Regions from separate parts of the Homo sapiens genome. Here region 2 is linked to region 1. Evidence: fine-mapped expression QTL. Tissue or cell type: lung. Region 1 holds a variant in brackets; the other region holds the start of a gene. All regions are shown on one strand. Distances are between the middles of the regions. Region 1 overlaps EFNA5 (ephrin A5). Region 2 holds the start of EFNA5 (ephrin A5).

Region 1 (11,780 bases):
TTCTCAAAATGCACCTTTTGGGTGTTTTGTGAGCAAGATCTTAAGGAAAGTAGGTCTTTTCAGATGAAAATTTTGTGAAGTCTTACTATGATGTAAGCTAATGAAAATTTGGGGGAATGCATTGTGAGTAGGCAGGGCTATAATTGTTTTTTAGCCCTTTGAACAAACCATGTCTACATATAACATGTTCATGGTGCCACATTATTAGTCAGGTTTTTTTTAAGAAAAGTAATATATGTATGCATTGATAGATAAGAACTATTTTTTTTATGATAGTTTTGATGTTAAATAGGCAGTGGTGATAAGGATGAATTTAGAGCTATGCTATTAGATGATTTAGGGCACTTAATTTACAGATTAAAGTTGAAACTAAAAAGATTGTTGTACTTTTAAAAAAGCTTCAGGTTGGAATGTAACACTTTATAAATGGATATTCATAGAAAGTCACAATAGCAAAATATAGATTTACAAAATCAGTGTATTTTTTAGGATACCATTTATTTTATTATTAAAATACTGAGTTTATTTTACATGTATATTTTTGTTTCTCTACCAGTTTCATGCTTGACTACCACTACTACTATATTCTATCATAATATTCCATACATCCATTTACTTTAAAAATGTGTTCAAATATCCCTGATCTCATCATCTTTTCAAACTTCGTGGGGATTTTATATTTAGAAATGCAACTATGGTGCCGGGAGCAGTGGCTCACTCTTGTAATCCCAGCACTTTGGGATGCCGAGGCGGGCTGATCACCTGAGGTCAGAAGTTCGAGACCAGCCTGACCAACATGGTGAAACCCTGTCTCTACTAAAAATACAAAATTAGCCAGGCGTGGTGGCGCATGCCTGTTATCCCAGCTGCTAGAGAGGCTGAGACAGGAGAATCACTTGAACCTGGGAGGCAGAGGTTGCAGTGAGCCAAGATCGTGCCATTGCACTCCAGCCTGGGCAACAAGAGCAAAACTCTCCGTCTCACACACACACACACACACACACACACACACACACACACAAAGAAAAAGAAAGAAATGCAACTATGTTGAAATAATTATATAATCATTTTGATGACCATCCAGTCCACAAGGTTGAATTAACCATGTAGTTTAAAATAGTTTCTGTTTGAGAGTATTGTAAAGTAAGAAAAGATTTTTGGTCCTTGCAAAATCCTGAGTAGGTAGCTCGTTGTCATCCTAGTCTCAGTGTGTAGCTTTGGAGAAACTGATCACAACTTTTTTGAGACTGTGTTAAAACTTGCATCCAGGAGGTTTATAAAAAAAGATTGGGCTGTTCTGGTCTTCAGCACCTCATGACTTATTTTCTAAATTGTGACCCAGTCTTTCTAGTTTATTTCTTTACTCATATATTCAAGAAAACGTACTAAGCACCTACTTGTCATAAACATTTAAGACTTCCTGGTAACCACCATTTAAAGTATTCATATTGTAGTATTACCAGAAAGGGGTCCAGATCCAGACCCCAAGAGAGGGTTCTTGGATCTCGCAAGGAGTTTGGTGCAAGTCCCTAGAGTAAAGTGAAAGGAAAGTAAAGGAATAAAAGAATGGCTACTCCATAGGCAGAGCAGCAGCTTGAGGTGCTAGACTAAGGATACTTACAGTTATTTCTTGATTATAGGCTAAACAGAGAGTGGATTATTTATGAGTTTTCTGGGAAAGGGTGAACAATTCCTGGAACTGCAGGTTACTCCCCATTTCAGACCATGTAGGGTAACTTCCTGACATTGCCATGGCATTTGTAACTGTCATGGCACTGGTGGGAGTGTCTTTTAGCATGCTAATGTGTTGTAATTAGCATATAATGAGCAGCGAGGATGACCAGAGGTTACATTCATGGCCATCTTGGTTTTCGTGGATTTTGGTTGGCTTCTTTACCACATGCTGTTTTATCAGCAAGGTCTTTATGACCTGTACCTTGTGTTGACCTCCTATCTCATCCTGTGGCTAAGAATCTCTTACCCTCCTGGGAAAGCAGCCTAGTAGCTCTCAGCCTCATTTTACATAGCCCTTATTCAAGATGGAGTTGCTGTGATTCAAATGCCTTTGACAGTAGCATACAGTGAAATGATGATCATGGAGCATATTGTTATTAACTAATGGCGTAATCATTTCCATGAATTATTCAGTCATTAAACATTTATGTTCTGAGTGTCCATTATGTGCCATTCAATACACAGATATTTATTGAGCATCTGCTAGGATCAAGGACTCTTCTGGGTTCTAGAAATATACTAATGAATGTAATAGGCAAAAATTTCTGCCCTCGTGAAGGCCGTATTCCAGTGTTCCTCATCTACGTTTTTAAATCATTTATAACCATTCATCTGTATATGAGTATATTTTTAAGGGGTGTAAAAAGAGTTGACACTCAGGCCGGGTGTGGTGGCTCATGCCTGTAACCCCAGCACTTTGGGAGGCCAAGGCGGGCGGATCACGAGGTCAGGAGTTCAAGACCAGCTTGGCCAACATGGTGAAACTCCGTCTCCACTAAAAATACAAAAAAAAAAAAAAAAAAATTAGCCAAGCATGGTGGCACATGCTTGTAATCCCAGCTACTCGGGAGGCTGAGGGAGGAGAATCGCTTGAATCCTGGAGGCAGAGGTTGCAGTGAGCTGAGATCGCACCATTGCACTGCAGCCTGGGCGACAGGGTGAGACTCCACCTCAGAAAACAAAAAAAAAAAAGGAAAAGAAAAAGAGTTGACACTCACTTTTGCTCTTTTGTGTTGGTTCTTTCAGATGAAAAGAACAAATAGTCATCTTAAAGAGTCTGTAAAAGGGTATCTAAAGACATCTGCTCTTATGTATTAATGGGTTATAAGAAAATTTTTAGCAAAATTGCATTAGAGACTACTAACATGTCACGCTAGTCACCATTGTTATGTAAGTGACACAAATTCTGATTAACTCAAGAGCGAAGCCATCCTATAAATAAATTTATAGGAATAGCACTTTGTCCAAATGCAACTTTGAAACCTGAAGTTTGCTCCTAGGTAATTAAAACCAGAATACCTAAAATATCCATTTAATCGAGGAACTATAAACTGTCAGGACAAATAACTGCAATACAATAAAGGAACACTGCAATAAGTAAATAAGTGAATGATTAAATGAAATGTTTCAAGTAATGAATATACCTAATTCTGTAATGACATTGGACATGAGAAAAATGAAATTATTAATTATTGAAACACCTTTAAGTGGAATTAACTTCTAGAACTTTTTTCTCATTATTATAAAAACAAGAATAATTTATTGCTTATACTTGTATTACTAGCTGTTTAGTATACTCTGAAAATAGTGATGGTTCAAGCTTGACTTACACTTAGTTTTTAGAAGTCTATTTAATTAAGATTATTGTTATATCAAGGCTGAAGATAATTTGAAAATGGCAGGGCTGACCTTGATATTTCAATTCTAGCCAGTTTGATAGCCCTGAAGTTATTATGAAAATTTGTCTGCAGTTCATGTCTTCAAGGTTGGTGTAACACAGATGAGGCCCACATTTTTATTTAAAAGACATATACAGGAATTAAACTATGCAGCAGAAGACACAGATGGAAATAGTGTTTTACAGCAAAAAACTCTGATGACATTCGTCTGTGTGTGTGTTTGTGTCTGTGTGAATAATTATCCAGAGAGCTGCTTCTATAATACGGTGACCTCACACGTGAGGACCTACGGTGTTCACATAATAACTGTGGTCACTGAAGGTGGATGCTATTCTAACTTAAGTACTGGCATGCTTTCAGTTCTGTTCCAAGAAGCCATCCATCTGCACTTCACTTGGCTCACAGTTCCACAGAGAACAAACAGAAGGATAAACTGCAAGTTTAGTTCAGTGGCAGGAGGAAGGAGACCTGATTTGCCCAAGGCATCACCTGATTTGGCCAAAGTTCCAAAGATGATGGGAGAAACTTTTGGGTAACTACCCACATTTTTTTCTGTGAGACTTTCTTCCCCACAATTCCCTGAAAATTAGTCTTTCAAAAAAAATCTTCAGATTCTTATCCTTTAATGGTTAGATCCCACCTTGTCCTCTTTCCTGGCCTTTCTAAGCATGCACCAGCCCACAGCTGGTTAATCTTTGCTCATTCTCCAGAGTGGCATTGTCCAATAGAAATATGTGAGCCATGTATATAATTTTCAGTTTTCTAATAGCTACATTTTTACCAAGAAATTAAAAATGCTGGTGATATTAATTTTATATTTAATTCAGCATATCCAAAATACGACCTCCTGGGTTCAAGTGATTCTCCCACCTCAGCTTCCTGAGTAGCTGGAACTACAGCTGCGCTACCATGCCCAGCTAATTTTTTTTTTTATCTTTAGGAGATGAGGTTTTGCCGTGTTGCCCAGGCTGGTCTCAAACTCCTGAGCTCAAGCGGTCCTCCTTCCTTGGCCTCCAAAAGTGCTGGGATTACAGGTGTGAGCCACCACGCCTTGCCATTTTCCGTTATTTATATCCAAACCCTTCATCCATTCCTGCATTCCCTGGCTAGGTTCTTAATTAATATAGGCTGCTAAATGAATGAATGATCCATTTTCATTGGCTCTATTGTTTTAATCTTTTAAAGTTTACATGGATGTTATTAAAGACTTATAATTTGTTTTATACCAAAATATACCAGAATTATTTTTCTAGTGTAGTCATATTTATAGCTTTATGAAAAACAGCAGAGGCAAAGCAGTCAACCATAGTTAGGAGATGAGATTTGTAATCCATATTTTACTGACAACTTTCTGTGTGACCTGGAGGTGATCATTTAACTTCTCTGGTCCTCCCATTCTTCTCATCTCTAAAATGCTGTGGGATTAGATTACTTCTAATGTCCTTTCTCATTTTCTGATTGTATCATTTATTTTTGAACAAAAGTTTTTTTTTATTTTGACAGATCATATTATATAAGAATAATAGCTCTCTCATTCTGACCTTCACATACAAACTTTTGATCATTTTATGTTACTTCTCTAATCCATATTCTGTATTTCATTTTCAAAAATTTAGATTCTTATCCCTGAAGATGATGCATTATTTCTGTATTCTTAGCCCGTAGGATAATAAAGCAGCAATAAATGTTTAATGAATTTTTACTTACATTAAAAACTATTAGTAACAGTTTGCTTCTTGGAGACAAGCCTTTTTCAGCAGGTGGTGAATGTTTCAGCTGTCTTTTTCCTTACTAAAGAAGGATTCTGAGTAGGTTTCACCCTCAAAATCTAGATATTATATATTTTTTGTTATTCACCTTTGTGTTTCCTGCAGCCAAAACTGTTTTTCCTGCCTTGCTCTTCTGATCATGTTATTTCCATGCTCAAGACTCTCTAGTGCCCTAAGAATAAATTTGAGGCTCCTTAGCTTGCCATTAAATGGGCTGCCCACCCTCCACACCTGCCTCAGGCACTCATTTCTCAAATCCCCTGCTCCTGCTCCTGCTCATCTGGCCCCAGATTGCCTCTCCTCTTTTCCAGTCA[T/C]CTGATTCATTCCTATCCTTTAAGGTCTATCAGAGTGAGGTTTGAGCCCTATCTTCACCCCAGTCCATAATTTAGCAACCTTTGCTAAGGTAACCTTTATTCTTATTTGCCATTATCAAACACAAATACTTACACCAATAGAGTTCAGACTACTTCTTCAACTAAATTGTAATGTTCCAATGACAGGTTAATCATTTACTCTACTGGATGTTTACTATGTGTTGAATTCTCAGCCAAGCCTCACGAATAAAAAGAGCAAACATGCAGACAAATAGTTATAATATAGTTCCAATAAGTACAGAATTTGGAATATGTACAAGATATCTTGATGGACCAGAGAAGGGAGTAGACAACTGTTCCTGAGGGAAATCTGGGAAGGGTTCATGGAGCTGGTGAGTCCTAAGCTGGGAGTCATTTCAGGCAGTGAGAGGTACACAAATAAAGCGTAAGTGCTCAAGAGCTTGAAGTGTTTCTTGTGGCTCCCTGTGGTTGTGCTTTAGAGCAATATAGCATAGTGGTTGAATGTGTAGACTGGATCAGACTGCCAGGGTTTAAATCTTGGCTCTGTCGCTCACTAGCTCTATCACCTTGGGCAAGCTACTTCAGTTAGGCTTCAGTTTTCTCAAATGGAAAATGGGGATGATGCTGATGTTGATGATCATAATTGTTTTTTATCTCCAAGAGAAGGTGGGGGGGAGAGAAAAAGAGAGAGAGATGGGAAAGGGGGATTAAATGAGTTAGGTAAAGAATGTAGAATAGCAAGTACTTAACAAATGTTAATTATATCTCTTACTACTGATTCTCACAGTGTTGTGTACATAGGAGGTACCCAATGAATATTTACTGAATATTGAAGATTTTCACTACGCAATCAGTTAATATATTCACACGCTTTGCTATTACTGCATACATTTTCTAATGATATCTCTTAGTGATATGCTACTTTTTTGAGGATATAGGAGGGGTGTATGTGTGTGTATCAGTGATATGTGCCAGATTCATATTGGCTCACTAGGGGAAATTTTCCAATTCTGAGATCAATGACCTAAATCTCCTTGTCTACTATGATTTCCAGCTGTCCAGATTTCCCATATAGCATGCCCTAGGCAATGTTTGCAGATTTGTTGCATGGAGAATCAGTACACAGTGCACCTTGTAGTTTTACATTTTTCATGTAGGACTCAGTTTCTTTTCTAAAGAAATTTTTGTGAAATTAATAACAGGATGCCATGAAGCTTTCCTAAGTCCTTTGAACTTAAATCATTTGATATTATTTGAAATTGCCATTCATATAATGAACAGCATTTTTTCTCAGAGTTATGCAATGCCTACTGCTTCACAAATTATAAACTACGAATATTTTTACTTAACATATAACAGGTCCCTTATCTTAAAATTCATAGCATTTTTGCTTTGAATGGAGATCATTGCCAAGTTTTTGTTAGGCACCTTTTCTTTACAGAGCTTGTCCTTTATTATTAATGTCACAGTAGTTTTTCAGAACAAATTGCATTAAAGATACGGAAAAACAAAGGCTACCTTTTATACATACATTGGTTTATTGAAGCAATAATTGAATAATAAATAGGATGATATTATAGGGCCAAAATTTTACTACTAGTTATATGACAGGTTTTTCTGTTATAGCTATATTTTTGAAGCATTTTAAAATAAAATAATTAGGGTTATTCCTAAAGATTAAAATTCAGAGTCTACTAGAATAGTAATGAAAATCATTATAATTGTACTTTCACAAACATGTGCCAGACCTTTTAAGCTTGGTGCCTAAATAGGCTTCGACAACACTTTTTCATGTACTCCTACCAAATATCTTGGGGATAGGTAGGGAAGCTGTTCCACTGATTTTACAGATGGGCAGACTGAATCATAGAGCAGTTAAATGATTTGCCCAGGGTAATGTAGTAATTAGATATCTGTATCTGTCTGTGCTCTTTTCATTAGTTTATTCTGCAGCTCAAAATGTTTGTTCCTATAAGCATGCATATTATTTGTACATTAATAATGCATTTTCTATTTCTATAAAAGAAGAGAGAATAGCAGATAAAGCTCCAAATAGAGAAGACACATATTTTAGTAAGGTAGCTTTAGCATCTAGTTCTTTTTTATATATATAACATATCACTAAAAATGTATCCTCTTCGAGTGTAGGGACACATTTTGCTTTACTTAACAGCATTCATTTAAGAAAAATGCTAGTTTCATTTCAAGTCAGTTACTTTAAAAAATAATTATGTTAAAAGATATTTTAGCCCTTGTCAGTCTGTAATTCAAACCTTAAGAATGAAGCTCTTTTTTTAGTTAATTTAAAAAATACCCTCTCTTTAAATACTTTCATCCTGAACAAAAAAGACCTTTCTTTTGGGATTCCTTCTCTGCATGGCAGAGTTCCTTACAACAAAATGCTCGAAGAAAATAGGAGGTACTTCAGATACTTCTTATATAACTGATGTTTGAAAATGTTAGACTGATTGATGTATAAAAGTGAATTTTCCATAATGGGATTTTAAGTCATGAAGAATGAGGAGAATTGCCTGATTATTAGTTTAAAGGTAGCTAATTCAATGCATGCTGTAATACATTTTAAAAGCTCTGCATTGCAAATACTGAATGATGTAAAATACAAAATACACATCTTTTTATTTCCAAAGAAGATTAGAAAACAATAAAATATTAGAAACTGAAATTTTTAATTTTTTAATGGCCTTTTTAATGGGTAAACAATTTAGTAATAAAAAATATTAATGGTTATGAAGATAATAATTTTAAAGTGACTGCTGATAGCTTGGGTTACAAATAGCCTTATCCTTAAGACCTTATCTCTTTATAATTTAAGTGCTTTTACATATTTTGCCTCATTTACTTTTAAAGCTTCATGATACAGTGATTTGTGTGGGTGGCACAGTTCTTACTACGTAAGTAGTGAAACATAGCCATAGGTTAAATGATTTACTCTTAATTTTATGCTGACTTTTTCAGGCAATTTCTGAGGCTTTATGTTGCCTGTATTCTGAGCAACGAATGATTGAAAACAGCGAGGAATTCTGGAGATAGACATCGGAACACCTCTTCTTAGAAGATCACATTATTCAGAATCCTTAATGATTCTTACCTTTTGAATGACAGATTTTTAGTGGACATAAAAACTGCTAATGAAAGTAGGATGGTTAGAACTGTTGACATTTTACGTGAAGGCATTGCAACTGGGCAAAACATATTCAAAACATCAGGTAGTATTTTGTTCACTGTGCACCGAAGGCAGATGACTTCATTAACTGGTGACAATTTTACCAATCCTGGAAGCTTTGATCTTGAGGGGAAACGATCCTGCATAGTAGACAAGTTTATTGGCAATAGATGACCTGGTAGTAAACAGTGGAGTTCACAGCTGAAACTGCACCCTGTGCCCGCCCTTTCCCAACATGCTGTGATGCATTTTGAGCTCTTCCATTTTAGCTTCCATTATCCACCACCCAAGTTCTCAATTCAATTTCAGACTCGGGCAAAAGCCTGTAATTCTATTTGTTTTGGGTAAATTTAGCAAGCTGCTCCTGATTACACCTTAGCCAGAGACCATCTGTTGACTGGCGTGCCTCTCTGAGGAGTGGTTCCTGTAGGCAATGAATGGGAAGAGGGTTGGAGTGCTGCTGCTATTAGTAAGCAGATGCACCGTATCAGAGATAGTCCTTCCCGCCTTTCAATCTGCCAGCTCTCTGTATTGATGGAGTGTCGTATGCCTGCGAGTCGTTCCATCCTGAGGCAATGAGAAGTGCTCTCCTAGGGTCCATTTATCAAGTGCTTCTACTGGCATTTGATGGAAAGGAATTTAGAAGTCATAGTTTGATACACTTCGAGCACGGCCACGTTCTCCTTTGCACGTCCTGAGTATGTATGTATGTGTGTGTATATATCAACCCCATGTACATGCTTTTCAGCAGTTATGTGCTGTCAAAAGCCCCACAGATGAAACAACAAGATACAGCTGTGCTTCGTAATGTAATGAGTAAACCGCCACAGCAATTGTGTCAGGATCACAATTCTTTAAGGCACTGCTTCCTAAAATGATTGCCGGTTCATTTGCATCAGATAGGGAAGATGTGCTAGATAAATTCAGAATGTCGAGGAACAGTTTGATGTTGACTGTGGCATGATGAGGGATCTTTCTAAATGATGATACTGTTAGCTCGTGGCTAAGACGAGACTGGTCTAAACACAACAGAGACGGCAGTTTCCTGTTGCAGTGAGTCATGAGAGGAAATGGATAAAATGAACATAAATTAACTGCATTTCGTTTTCTAAGAGTTGGAGAGGGAAGGGAAGGAGGCAGTGGATGGCCAGTGTGCCTGAAAACTGGAATTAGATCGGTGAACTGAGAGGATTGGTTTCTGCCCTACGTTGGGTGAAGAGGGGCAGTCCTCATTGCTAACAGCCGCAGGTTGGTGTAATTAACTAACTTCCGTAGGCAATGCCCGGTGTACATCTTGAAAACCCATCAGATGGGGTATTTCTCACTGACATCAGCTTTTAAAGGGAGGAGGGCTCATAGTTGTATCACAGCTGCAGTACTTTTCTTTAAGGCAAGAAACAGTTTAAATCAGAGAAAATTTCACAGGATTCTAGATCGACTACTTTTTTCATCTAGTTCTATTATTTTGACCTTATGGCCGTTTTTTGTTTGTTTAATGGCGTGAATTAAAGTGTGACATTTCTGTCCATCTTTTCACGTACAAAATCAGCATTCGTTAATTCAGGTTATGAAAATAATTGCTGCTTCAACAAAGTGAGGCTTAAAATACCACAACAGAAATGTAGCCGATAGTATGTATCTTAACTTTTAGTTTATAATGACTGTATTAAAATGATATTACAGTTTTAAGTTTTTCAAACAAATAGTGAATGGTTGTGCAAAATAAGACACTGAAATATTTTTTAAAGAATTAAAATCACAAATGTTGAATGAGAAAAATAGTTTCTGAGAATTTCTTTGCTAAATCAGGGCAATTTGGTTTATTGCCAAACTGATTAAGGAGGGGCTGATTTCATAAGCTATAATATCTGTACTTTTATGTCATCTCTGATATAACAGTATATAATGTATTTAAGACTGCAGATCATCATTAAACCACATAATGATTGTTACACAGATAAAATAAGAAGCTTAATTTGTAGCTAAAGACTGTATCTTATTGATTGTATAGTTGATGTTGTGTTGTGCAGGAGGTAAGAAATATCCTAAGTAAGAAACAGAATATTTTAAAAAAATATTTACAAAATCATATAGTTGAGTCAATATCTATAAGTGAGGCTTAATCCATGCAAATAAATTGTTTTAACAAGGGCCTGTGGCTTTAAGAATGACACTTGATCTATATGCTGTAGAAGGCTTGTAGAAGTTGTCCTCATATTAGTTTATACTATGCACACAATATGTCCTTATCTAGCCTGATGCATGCTCTAAAACAGGAAGCATAAAACCAAGACGACACCAGGTATGAATAAATAGTAAGAGTTAGGAGCTGGAGCTGACTCCACTGTGAATTCTCCCACTCACTTGTTCACAGGTTTCTTCCTGCAGGCTTCAGGATGAACAATCCTGGCTGAAATGTTCACAGGAAACCTTTTTGTTTTGTTTTTTTTTAATGAATATTTTTTAGGTACTTGCTATTTGAAGAAACAAAGTCAAGGTGATTTAAGGGCCAGGCAAATATCCCTTAAAGACCTTTGTTATAATATAGCCCTTTTATTATATTTGAATATATGCTCAGATGCCTGCAGAATTTCATGTTCCAGTCAGGGTAGAGCAGGCTAATTTTTAAGGGACATGTGCTTCAGTACACAAATAGGGTAATAAATAAGACTAACAAGTGTGCATTCAGGCTACATGTATAAGAGGGTAAGAGGTGAGACAGCCACACCATATGAGGATAGGGTTGGGTGGAAACAAAGCCAGGCTAATGGAAAGCCTTGCCTGCTCTCTTCTAGAAAAAAATTGAACTCAGGTCAGTAAATAGTGCTGCACTCTGGGAGAGACAAGTATATGACAGGTCTTTGCTTTATGTGAAGCTTACAGTGGGACTAGGCTTACCCTGGCAAAATTATTACAGAACAAGAAAGACTTTGCAGTAAAGAGCAACAGAAAGAAGAAATGCAGAGCTACAAATACTTTCTTTAGCAGATATACGTATACATTGTAGGGAAAACGTAAAAGATCAGCCTTCGTGCCCTACAGACCACAGTTAATAGTGATGTTTGTGGCAGTTTTTCCT
Region 2 (11,780 bases), 160 kb before region 1:
TTCAAACATTCTGTGGGCAGGACAGCTGAGTCACAGTTTGGTGATAGGATCTTAGCTTCTTGGAGCTTCAGAATTTATTCTAAATGTTCTAGAAAAATAGCAGAGTTAGCTTAAATACCATTATGTTAGTCATCTGTTAGAAAGTTTTGTGTTTAATTATTATTTAATTTTTGCTCTAGAGTTTATTTTCTTTATGATCTCTTCTGGATACTAGTTCTAATTTAACTGCTATATTAAAAGTTGCTTAGGACTGAGGAATTTGATTTGCCAGCTTATTTCATTTATTTGTCTAGGCACCCTGAGACTATAGAACTCTACTTCTATTGGGTGGCAGCTAATTCAAATTAAAAACTAGTCTAAAAAATAAGATTAATCCATATTTAAGCTTTGCCCTGCAACCACATCTTGGAGTTGGCACTCACAGATAATTTTGTGCCATGTAAAAATTATTTAAAAGTATCAGTGTCACTTCACATTAATAGAGATCATGAAATTCTCTAAGGTATCAATATTCTGGCCTTAATGGTGAATTGGGCTACTTCTCCAGATAAGTAAGTGCAGAACTTACTTTTGCCTGAAATATTAGTTAAGGTAAAAATAACTTACCAGTGGTTATTTATTGAGATCAGTGGTTCTCAATCCTCTATGCTCACTAGTATTCCCTGGAGAGCTTTTAAGAATTGTAGATCCCAAGTCCCCCTCCTAACCAACTAAAACAGGAAGTGGAGCCCTGGTATTGGTTTTGTTGTTGTTGTTGTTGTTTGTTTGTTTTTTAACGCTCCCTAGGTGATTCTAATTTGTAGCCAAGGTTAGAACACTGATCAAGGTAGTTCAAGCCCCAAAAATTAAATAAACGCATAAATTCCTATTTGTGCTTTAATTTGGGGCATATAAATTATTGCTTCAATGGCACTTGCTTTAAACCCACCAGCGCACCCAGTGGCCTATAGCTTTAAATGGAAACAGAATTGCAGATAAGCCCTTTTATCGTCCATTACCAACCTATTTTTTCAGGTCTCAGCTCCCTACAACATTGTCTTGTCAAACTCGAAGCGTTTGAACACTGTCTGCATTTTTTTGTCCCCATGTTTTTAGGTTCTTGCTGTTCTCTTTTTGTTATACGTTCACCTCCTCCTATACCTGGCAAAATACTTACATTCTAAAGGGCATTTAAAGTCGTTTAAAAGTCATTGCTTCTGTGACACTGGGCGAATTATAATAAAATTATTTTATATAATGTTGATTTGTATAAATTTAAATCACATGAATGCTTTCCTGAAGAGACAAAGTCACATTATCTAACGGTAAGTGTACAGTTAATAATATAGCTCTTCAAACTCTGTTCAAGTACAGCAGGTCCTCAACGCTGTTTGGTTGAACGTCACTTCGTCATAATGGTGATGAGAAAAAAAATCGATTCCAGGCCATGGCCACTGTCTGTGAGTAGTTTGCACATTCTCCTCATGTCTGCGTGGGTTTTCTCCGGGTACTCTGGTTTCCTCCTACAACCCACAGCTGTGCTCGCTAGGTTGTGTCTAAGCTGTGCACATATCTAAATATTCTCAGTATGCGTGAGTGTGGGTGTGAGTGTGAGTGCACCCCAGGATAGAAGGGTGTCCTGTCCAGGGTTACTTTCCTCCTTGAGCCCTGAACTCCGGCCACCTGCAATCCTGAAATGGAAAAATTGGTTACATGATCTTACTTGTTTTTATTAATCTTTCTCAAATGTATGTCTAGCTCACATTTATTTCAATGTTTAACATTAGAAGTGTTTTGGTCTTTATCTGGAAGTTTGGTGATGTTTTTGTGACCGGAGATATGCATAGGAATTTAACTCTTGTTTGTATCAAGTAGCCTATGGTGAAATTGTTTTCCTTATATATGCCACTTCGCTTAAAGTCACAATTTCCAAGAACATATCCCTGACATTAAGGACTTACTGTATCTATCATCCTGCTGACTAGTAACTTCCATACCAATAATTACTTAGGCACATAATCCCAGAGTCATTTGATTTAGGTTTATGAATTGTTTCACATAGACATTTGAGTTATGTTATGAACAGCCGCGAATTTCAACATCTTATTCCAATCTTATGAATCACTTTATGGAAGAGGACAATGTATACTTTTTTTTCTGTTTAATATGGGACTATTCAAACTTTAAATAGTAGAGATATTTAAATATAAGGACATCCATATTTTTGTGATATAATTGAATTTTCCCATTTGGTTATTGTATGTGTTTCAAACGGGAAATGAGTGGATACCATTTCTTTTTCTTCACCTTTTTTTCAGCTTTGATGCCACAGGAAGCCAGCTTGCTAGCTCCCTGTTACCTGATAGTTCCCTGACTAAAAAGACTCTTCAGTGAGGATCAGCATTTTACCCTAGACAGGAGTCGTGAATTTTCTTTTTAAAGATACACATATCTCTTAAAAGGGTCCAGAATATTTCCTGCAAAACTGTCTCTGTCATATGAGCACCTATTAGAGCCACTATAAGAAAAGCTAAGGAAACAAATCCATCTTTCCTGCAACAGAAAAAACACACACCCTAAAATGGGCCAAGAACTTGAACATCAGCAAGATTACAGACCAGGGAAAAAAGCAAATAACATTTTAACTGAAAATTTGATTTGAAAAATAAAAGCTTATCCATTGGTTCTCTCACTTCTTTCCCCACTTCTTTCTCACTGCTGGAACTTTGTGAAACATACAGATGATGGAGGAGCATTTGTGTCGACATTCTGAATTTCAATTTTTAATAATTAGGCAGATGGTTGGTTTGTGGTAAAGTCCATTATTGTACAGATTGCAATTTGTATCTAGTCACAAAATATAAGTTACTTTCCTAGGACGATTTCAGGATCTTTTCAGATAGGAAATATTACTGTAATTGAAAAACGACTTAACTTTTAGCCAAGAGCCCATAACATCCAGGTACCTCCGTGCCCCTATGAACTGTTTCTTTTCCTCTCGAGTCTTTATTGGTCATAGCCCTAGATTTCCCATCAAATTCAACCCGGCCTGAGCGGCAGGCAATGCCCCTGCTGGGTGCGGATTGCAGGCCCACCACTGGAGGGCGTCTGGACGCTTCTAAACAGCTCTGAAGCGCCTGGAAATCCCGTCTGAGGACTGGAAAGCGCAGGAGGGTGAACGTGAGATTTGATTTTATTGGGCTAATAAGTAAAAAGGAGTGCAGGCAGGTGTGGGAGCAAAAGTAAACTGCCTTTTTTCTCCTGGGGATCTGCCCTTCCCACTAAGGCAGAAAACTCCCTAGGGAACATGAGAAAAAATACCGCTGCTCCCGAGCCCGCGGACCCCTTAAGGGCGGGTCTCGGGGGCCTGTGGCCCCGCAGAGCAGGCGTCGGGCTCACTTCCTGGGCGCTGGACGACAGTGGGGACGCGTCCCGAGGCGCTGGGACAGTCTCGCTGCCAGGAGATCGCTCTTCAGTGGCGGCTGAAGACCAGGCTTGCAACCTGCCCTTGAAGTCCAGGACCGAGGGGCCTTTTCCAACAATAAAGGAACTGCTTTTCTTCCCACAGCCCCCGCCCCCGGCCCTCATTTCTTTCCGCACCGGGTTCGATAAAGGCGTTTATTCTTTGGGGAGTGGGCAGCAAATCACCCTCAAGGTTGAAATGGAAGAGGTGTGAGGTTATTTCTGAAGGGCTCGTCTGCCGCATTCATTTCCTCTCTGTGGAAGGTTCGCGCTGAATTGTAATCACTTTAAACTGTGATTTGCCTGATTTTTAAAAACGTGTTTTCAGAGCATCACTTTAAAGAAAACTTGCTTCCTGCCCAAGAATCTTTAAATCCCAAGTGGGAAGAGGAGGGCTGAAAGGCACAGGAGGGGTGCTCAGACTTCCAGATAACCCAGCGCCAGGCAGCGTGCGGCGTGGAGAGCGGGTGGAATGGACAGGAACGCGCACTCCCTGAGGCTCCGTTCCAGCCCATCCGTCACCTGCGGGGCACCAGAGACAGATGCCGGCTCTCCAGCCAAAGGGTGGGCACAGGTTCCTTTAAAATCGAAAGACCCTACTCCCAGGTAAAAAGATGTCAAATCATTCCTTAGCCCAGACGGAATTCAGCACCCAAAGGGTTACACGTGGCTGCCGGGCTCCGGCGCAGGAGAGGGCGCCTCGGCACTCCCAGTAATTCAATTAGTCAGGTTTCTAGAAGGTGGGGCGGGGGAGGGGGTAGGAGGCGTGGGGAAGGGAGATTAGGAAAACGCCTCTTTCTCGTGGAGCAAACCAATCCGGTTGGAGTAAAGAGAGAGGAAAAACCCCCAATCTGTAAGCAAACAGTAGGCCGTTCCCTGACTGGTTGCTCCAGCTATCCCCCCACCGCGCTCCCACCCTTCCCAAGTAAACTGCTTGGAAGGAGGAAAAAAAAAAAAAAAAAAAAAAAGACAGTCCACATGACCCGGGCCGCAGCGGCAGCAGCGCTGGCTGGGCGCGGGCTGGCGGCACCTCCCCCTGCTTCGTCCGGAGCTCACACCCGCGCTCGCGCCGCCCGCCCGTCCCGCGTCCCGCGCAACACGCCCGGGCGGAGCCCCATCCCCCCGCCCACGTCCACGTTCACGCGTGCGGCCTCGCGCTCTGCTGAGGCTGCTGCCACTGGGTCGCCGCCGCTGTCGGCTTTCCACGCAAGTCATTAACGAGGGGGCGTGCCCGAGGAGATTTTTTTTCCCATAAAGCATTTTTTCTCTCGCTCTCTTTTTTTCCCCCTCTTTTGCAAAACTGACTTTTACAAAACCCTTTCCACTTCTTGCCAGTCGTTTCAATTCCTCCTGGGCTGCTCGTGCTGCTGCTGCTGCACTCAAGTTTATTTATTTTCCCGCCTGGGTAGGGGTTTTAGGATTCGGTTTGTGGTTTTCACCTCTGTTGCTGCTGTGCCTAAGGAGGGAAAGAGGAGCAGCTGCGGGAGGATCGGGAAGGTTTTCTGATGTAGTCATCGGGGAGGTGCCACTCGCTCGTGCGCTTTTTTTTTTTCCTCTTTTCCCATTTCAAACTGATTGATGCATCTCTACAAGTTGCTAGGCTTGGACCCGCTGGAGTCGCAGGGACACTTCTGAGAGCTCACCCCGGGCTCTTGGCACCGCGTGTGGGGGCTCAGTCTCCCTCTCGGAAGGCGATCGGAGACTGACATCGGCCCATCCAGGAGTTGGAGGGATCCATTTGAAAGTGATTGTTTCCCCTCCCGCTCTCCAGCCGAACAGTTGGGTTGGCGTCGTCTTGCAGGTTTAGGAATCCCAGCTCTGCCAGGCCGGCTGGTCTTAACCTCTGCTCTTCATTCACTGTGGTGCACCCACACCCAGCCAAGGAAAGCACGCGCGAGAAATCCCCGAGGCTCGGCCAGCCCCCGGGGTGCCCTCTTCCGCTACCGCCGCGTTCCGACTCTGCTGGGGGACCTGCCGGAAGACGCGAAGAGCCAAACTTTTCTTTGAGGTTTTCGAGGCAAGACCGCTTCGAAAGCCGGCGCAGCTGCCGCTTAACCAGTTCCAGGACACCGACAAGGCTGGGTTGCGGCTCCGGATCCCCACCCTTCTCGGCGCACCGCCCGGTACCGCAGCACTTACGACTCCTCTGAGATTTCTGGGGGTCGCCCCGCTAAGGCACAGAGGAGGCTGAGGAAAGGGGTTCTCAGACTCCCGGGACCACAAGCGCGAAGCCCTCTATCAGCACGTCGCCCTTCTCCTGCAGTTTCCCACCGGCCGCCAAAGTAACTTGGAGCGAAGCGTGGCGCAGTGCGAGGGCCCCGGGCGGTGGCGGAGCCGTGCGTAGCCTGCTGCGCCGACGCTGAGCCGGGCCCGGCGGGCCGGTGTATGTCTCCCCGCGGCTGCGGCGCGCAACTCCCGGTGACTGTGCAGCGCGCGCCGCCGCCTGCCCCGACCCGCGCTGCAGCCGCCCGGCCCGGCGCGCACCTCCCTCTCCCGGGGTGACCGGCCTGCCGCCGCCGCCCGAGACACAGCTTGGCACCTCTTCCCCCGCCCTCGCCGCCGCCACCACACACACGCACGCTTCTCTCCATCTTGTGATTCCTTTTTCCTCCTGAACCCTCCAGTGGGGGTGCGAGTTTGTCTTTATCACCCCCCATCCCACCGCCTTCTTTTCTTCTCGCTCTCCTACCCCTCCCCAGCTTGGTGGGCGCCTCTTTCCTTTCTCGCCCACTTTCATTTTTATTTATTCATATTTATTTGGCGCCCGCTCTCTCTCTGTCCCTTTGCCTGCCTCCCTCCCTCCGGATCCCCGCTCTCTCCCCGGAGTGGCGCGTCGGGGGCTCCGCCGCTGGCCAGGCGTGATGTTGCACGTGGAGATGTTGACGCTGGTGTTTCTGGTGCTCTGGATGTGTGTGTTCAGCCAGGACCCGGGCTCCAAGGCCGTCGCCGACCGCTACGCTGTCTACTGGAACAGCAGCAACCCCAGGTAAGCCGATAACAGGCGGAGAGCCAGGGCTACCCGGGCCTCGGGGCCCTGCGGAAGGAGCGGCGGCGGGGATCGGCGCGCACCAACCGCTGGCGGCGCGCACCCTCGGAGCCTGCGTCGCCCGGGCGCTGATGGCTTGAGGCGTCGGCGGGAAGCGCTCGCGTCGCGCCCCTCTTTGTTAAGCCGCCGCGGAAAGGCCAGGTACCCCTGGGAGTCCCCGGGGCTGCCTAGACCAACTGCTTCTGCGGGGCGCCGGGAGACTCGGAAAAGGGCGGGAGCCGGGGAGTAGGGACTTCTCTGCTTCCCAGCCCCGGCATCTGGCTGGCATCCGGTTCCCGGCGCGGGGAGCCCCCAGTGTGCGCAGCCGGGAGCTCCTTCCTGGAGCGTGGGTCCGCAGGGACTGCGGAGAGAACCCGCCAAACATCCCCCAAAGTTTTTTTTTTTTTTTTTTTTTTTTTAATTTTAATTTTCCCTTCTCTTTTCCCGGTGCGCGCAGAGAGAGCGCACGGGCTGGGGGAAGTGAGGGGGGCTGGGAAGCGGAAGCTTTAGGTTTTTATTTTCCTCTTCAACTGCGAGGAAATCATTCGGCCCCTGAGTCAGTCTGGGCCCGGCGCGCCTGGCAGTGGAGAGGATTCTCCCATCTTCTCCATCCCTCCACCCACCCCAGTGGGTTCAAGGTGCCAGAAAGTTTGATCTAATGCCGGGTTACGTCATGTGTGCAGAACAAGCTGCCAGAGTTGGCCGAGCCAGGAGGTGGGAGCCCTTCGCCCGCGGCCTGGCGATGTGCTGCCGGAGGAACGCGCGCGATTACCTGGAACCGATTTGTAGGCGTCCCGAAGCCCGCCGGGTATGCGGGAGACTAGAGGTGGGCGCCGGGGGCGGTCCTAGTGCGCGTGCTGGACACCGGCCAGTCGCAGACGTCCCGTGTTTTCGGACCCTGGAAGTGGAGTGGGGAGGTTATCCAGAGTGCCCGGCGGGGTCCTCCGGGTCTGGAGCAGTTCCGAACCTTTATTGCTTCCCGGCCTGTGCACAGAAGTCGGCCCCGCTAGGCCCATACCGCACTGCTTTCTCTGGGACAGAGGCTAGCTTCCAGCTGTGTGCCGGTCTCGGTGCCCTCCTAGGTGCTATTTATTAATAGTACCGATTGCATCTAAAGTCACAGGTTTTTCACTGGGCTGGAGTGGAAGTTGGGAAGAGAGAGGCGGGAGGCCGAGGGGTTAGCCTAAGAGTTGGTGCGCGCCCCGGGCTCCAGGAGAGAGGGTATCGGTGGGCGCCTCCAGTTTTTTCTATCTCCTGCGGGCCCTCTCCGCCTGCCTCCAGCCTCCCCTCAGCATGCAGGCAAGAGAGGGATTCCCTGCTTGAATAATGTCAGCGCAGATGAAGATGGGAAGATTTCCCCACAAGCAGTCCGCCGGTTACAGAACCAGGAGGGAGTTCCCCCTATCCCGCTAGTCCAAGATAGTCTTACTCAGGTAGCCGCCCAAGTCCTAAATGAACCGCTGAACAGGAGTGGAGATATTCCTGAAAGTTTGGTTCAAAAAACAAGAGTCTCCTGGAGGTGGGTGGTGGAATGGGAAGCGATTTCTTCTTTGACATGCCACTTACCACTATTAGGAAAAGAGAAAAAGAAGCCATCCTGCCAGAGGAGAGATGCCTTTTATTAAAGCTGACAAGACAAATAGAGCAAGCTTTCCAGTTGTGATGGTGTTAAAAGCCAGTCTCATTATGTTGGTTAGTTTTTTTTCCCCGTTTGTGCTTTATTAGGCAGCATATACGAAGCAGAAATTTGTATCTCTGAACTTTAGCACCTTATTAAATAAAGCAACACTGAAATAGTTTCTTTGAATTTGGGATATCTTGCTCTCGGTTGTCTTTTCTTTCCCACACCAAGCTCCACATTGTGATCTTTTTCTCATGGCATTCATTTATTTGGATACTTGGGTGTTCCAGTCTTCCTGGGTTAAAACGGAAAGAACCAGCAACACCCCTACTTTAACCCCCCTTCTTAACCTGTCAAGCTAGTCTGAGTTAGTTTGAGGACATTTTATCTTAGGTTATCTCTGTTTTGTGCTTTTGATACTGTTGTTTGGTTTGAGATTAGCACATTGATTTTTGTCACAGGTCATGTTTTTTAATAGATCTGCCCTGCCTGCAGAAAACTCTTCTGCTCAGGATGCCATGGAGGCTTTGAACCTGCCCAGACAAAGTTAATCTGCAGAATTTTAAAATACCAAGAGTATTTCTAAATCGGTATTCTAACTTCAGGTTTGTAGAATTACCTTTCTATTTGATCATTATCAGTTTGATAATGGCCAAAAGAAAGAATGATGTACCCCTCTTAACCCCAAGAGATACAGCCCTAACACTTATTATTCTTAGGAATTTATGGACACATTTATCTTGGTATGTTATCACAGTTAAAAACTTACTTTAAAAACAATATTTTAAAAGTAGGCAGTTTTATCTCTGAAGTGTTGAATAAGATGTTGCTCTTTTGATGCATTAAGAAAAGTCAACTTGGATATAAGAGGCCACATGCCAAATAAGTATTTTAAAAATAAAAACTAACAGTTTTCCACAAACAATAGTAAGAAAATATTTCAGAAAATTTCCACGGGTTTAGTAAATTTTATAAATTCACTGTTGTGCAATTCCTTTTCCTGTATGTTATTTCATAAAGTAAGCTAGCCATGCTTTGTGTCTTTATATAGAACCTATCTGTTAAAATTTTGCTAAACTAGTAAGACTTCAATCTTTTGAAAAAAGAATAGAGGACTTTAATTGCAACTTAAATAATTTTTTTTATTTTTCCCTCAGAATATAATATGTTCAGTGGGCACGTTAAACTGATGATAATGTACACTGTGTCTAAACGAAGTAAATCTACTTTAGCTTATACTAACAGATTCAATTTGAAATTATGTTTAGGTAAAATCAGAATTAAATGTATCTTGATCACAGGGATTAAGTACAGTATCTTACTGTGTAACTTGTGTCACTTGTGTATCTGGTAGGAGTTTATCTTCTACATGGAGTTTCATTACTGCCTCTCCATTGATAAATGAGCATCTATAGATGTAGTTTCACGGGAAAAAATATTAAATTTATTTGCTGTCAGAATAGTTTTACTGTTACAATCTATGTACCCAGGTATTCACTTCTGAGAAGTGGATACTGAGTTTTCAAATGCTGATAACTTTTAGTTGGTAGTATTTATTGGATAGGGGACCAAACTGATTTTTTTATGTGTTGAATTGGCACAAATTTGTGAAATAGCCACTCAGAACTATCAGTTTGAATAGAAATATATGATAACATTTGCCTAAATAGATCTTCTATATTTCCAAAATTTGAAAACTTGTATAAGTTTTACCTAAAAGTGTAAATAATCAAATCATCCTTTTAATATTATTCTGAATTCTAAACTGGAATGTCACCAAGTAACTTTGAGTAATGAAAATCCACATCAAGAAGAATATAACTATTTGTCCTTAATTTCTTTAAGAATGTAAAAAGCTTTTAAATAAAGTTAAAAAGACTTCCAGTAATAAAAGTTTATTTACATTCTCCTTTAGTAGCTATGCTTATAAAGAGAGTCATAATACTAAGAACATGCCTCTTCATCTGAAGTATGCCATAAGCAGTTTGGTGCTTCTAATAAGAATATACTTTTAAACATCATGTGCGTATTCTAAGTTCTTCTTGGATTATTTTGACTATTTGCTGAAATGATATTAGGGTAATTAAACATATCTCCTACTGGTTGGCATTATTGATGCAATAGTCAAATAATACAGCAGCAAATATGACCAACACACTTTTAGGAATACCAGTCGTCCTCAACCTGGTGCTTTGCTTCTGTTAAGGTTTGAGTATCATCAATTTAAAAGGTTATACTCTTAAGAGGAAAATATCTGTGTAAGTCATGAAGGATTTACTAAACTTTAACCTAATCATGTTTTCTTTGGACTTTTTCAATTCTTGTAGGGACTTGTATATTAAACATTTCATATTAGAGTAGCAGGTAATTGACACCTTTTAGTTTTGTTAACACGTAATCTTGGAGTTGTGAAAGTAATGTGAATTCTAGGTCAACACTCCCAAGTCCTCTGGCAGTACAGGTCAAATGTATGTGGCTAAGAAGAGAGAAGTAGTAACATTTTTTTTTTCCTAATCATATTCCCTTGAGTATTTTTCTTCTTTCAAAATTTAGTTGCTCCATTTAAAAAAAATCTGAGCCATCATCATTTTGACATATGTATACCAGTATGCCGGCACTGTGACCTTTTCACTGACAAGTAAATGAAATCAGCATGGTTTAAATCTAAGAATTTGTTGTGAGTAAAGATTGAAAGTTTATCTTGGTCTTGAATGAGTTTCATCACAAAACTTAGATTGTCCTTACTTTTGAAATTTTAAATATTTTAAGTAATATTTTGTATGTTAGAAACATAAATGTTTTTCAAGTAAAAGGCATTAACTTTAAGCCTCAGTGTAACGTATCACATTATTAGATGTATTGGTAGTAATTTTGTTACTCTGAAATTTAGATCAGAATTTATGCAAGTACCAGGCTAAAAATAAGGCAGTATGATTGAGGTTTATAACCCATGTTTTTATGCTTATATGTTTATAAGAGACGTGAATTGACCCTCCCCCCTTTTTAATCTAGAAATTTGTAAAAGAGAAGTATGATTCCTGTTTTTTGGTGAGTTTTCCATAGAATTTTGAAAAGCAGAGTTAGCTACTAAGATATGTTCTACCTATTTGATTCATTATTTTATATATTCACAATAAACTATCAGAAATACTCAACTGTCTGATTTTTAGATGATAGGAACATTAGAGCTATTTGAGGCAGATTTGGCTATACAGTCTAATTTGGCATTTTCAGGGTAAGACCAAGGTCAGTAAACTACTAGTGATTAAAAGTATCAGAGTCTTCAGTAGTTTATTACTCTCTGTTAGGTGATTTTAGTGGTAATAACTAAACCATCAGCTCACTGAACTAATATCTTGTTGTCATGTGTGTTGTGGCTGACAGTAGCTTCAGAAGCTTCCACCTTTGAAGGCTGAGGATCAGGTTTGGAGGGAACACTTAGTTACTTGGGTGCAAATTAACCTTGTGAATTTCTTGCCATTTAATCTTGCAGAATACCTTCTGAACAGGCATTTCACTGCATTCTGTCCACTGGCCTGGTTTCCTGTTGGATAAGGACATAAAGATGGGCGCCTCCTTTTCTCCCCTGTTGCTATGAACCAAGCAAGCTACCAGCTTCACGCTGGGCCAAGAAAATGAATGAATACAATTAGTCCTTCAGGAGTTCTGGCCTTTGCTAGCTTGGGATAAGTA

Evidence for each region. PIP is the estimated chance that this variant, and not a neighbour inherited with it, causes the effect.
Region 2: EFNA5 starts here. The variant in region 1 is fine-mapped to the expression of EFNA5 in lung (TOPMed, PIP above 0.99).

The regions. Positions count from the first base shown.
Region 1 is chr5:107,500,244-107,512,023 of GRCh38, reverse strand. All of the region lies in intron 1 of EFNA5 (ephrin A5), which reads left to right. Among named protein-coding and RNA genes, the nearest start is that of EFNA5, 160 kb to the left of the region's middle. The variant T/C (reference allele first, on the strand shown) is at 5,497.
Region 2 is chr5:107,665,136-107,676,915 of GRCh38, reverse strand. It overlaps EFNA5 (ephrin A5), which reads left to right and starts at 5,979. Exons shown (of 5, transcript NM_001962.3): 1 at 5,979-6,427. The coding sequence starts at 6,303. RefSeq lists silencers at 3,016-3,095, 4,467-4,536, 5,897-5,946, 6,517-6,586 and enhancers at 3,176-3,225, 3,127-3,626, 5,367-5,506, 6,217-6,346, 6,747-6,826.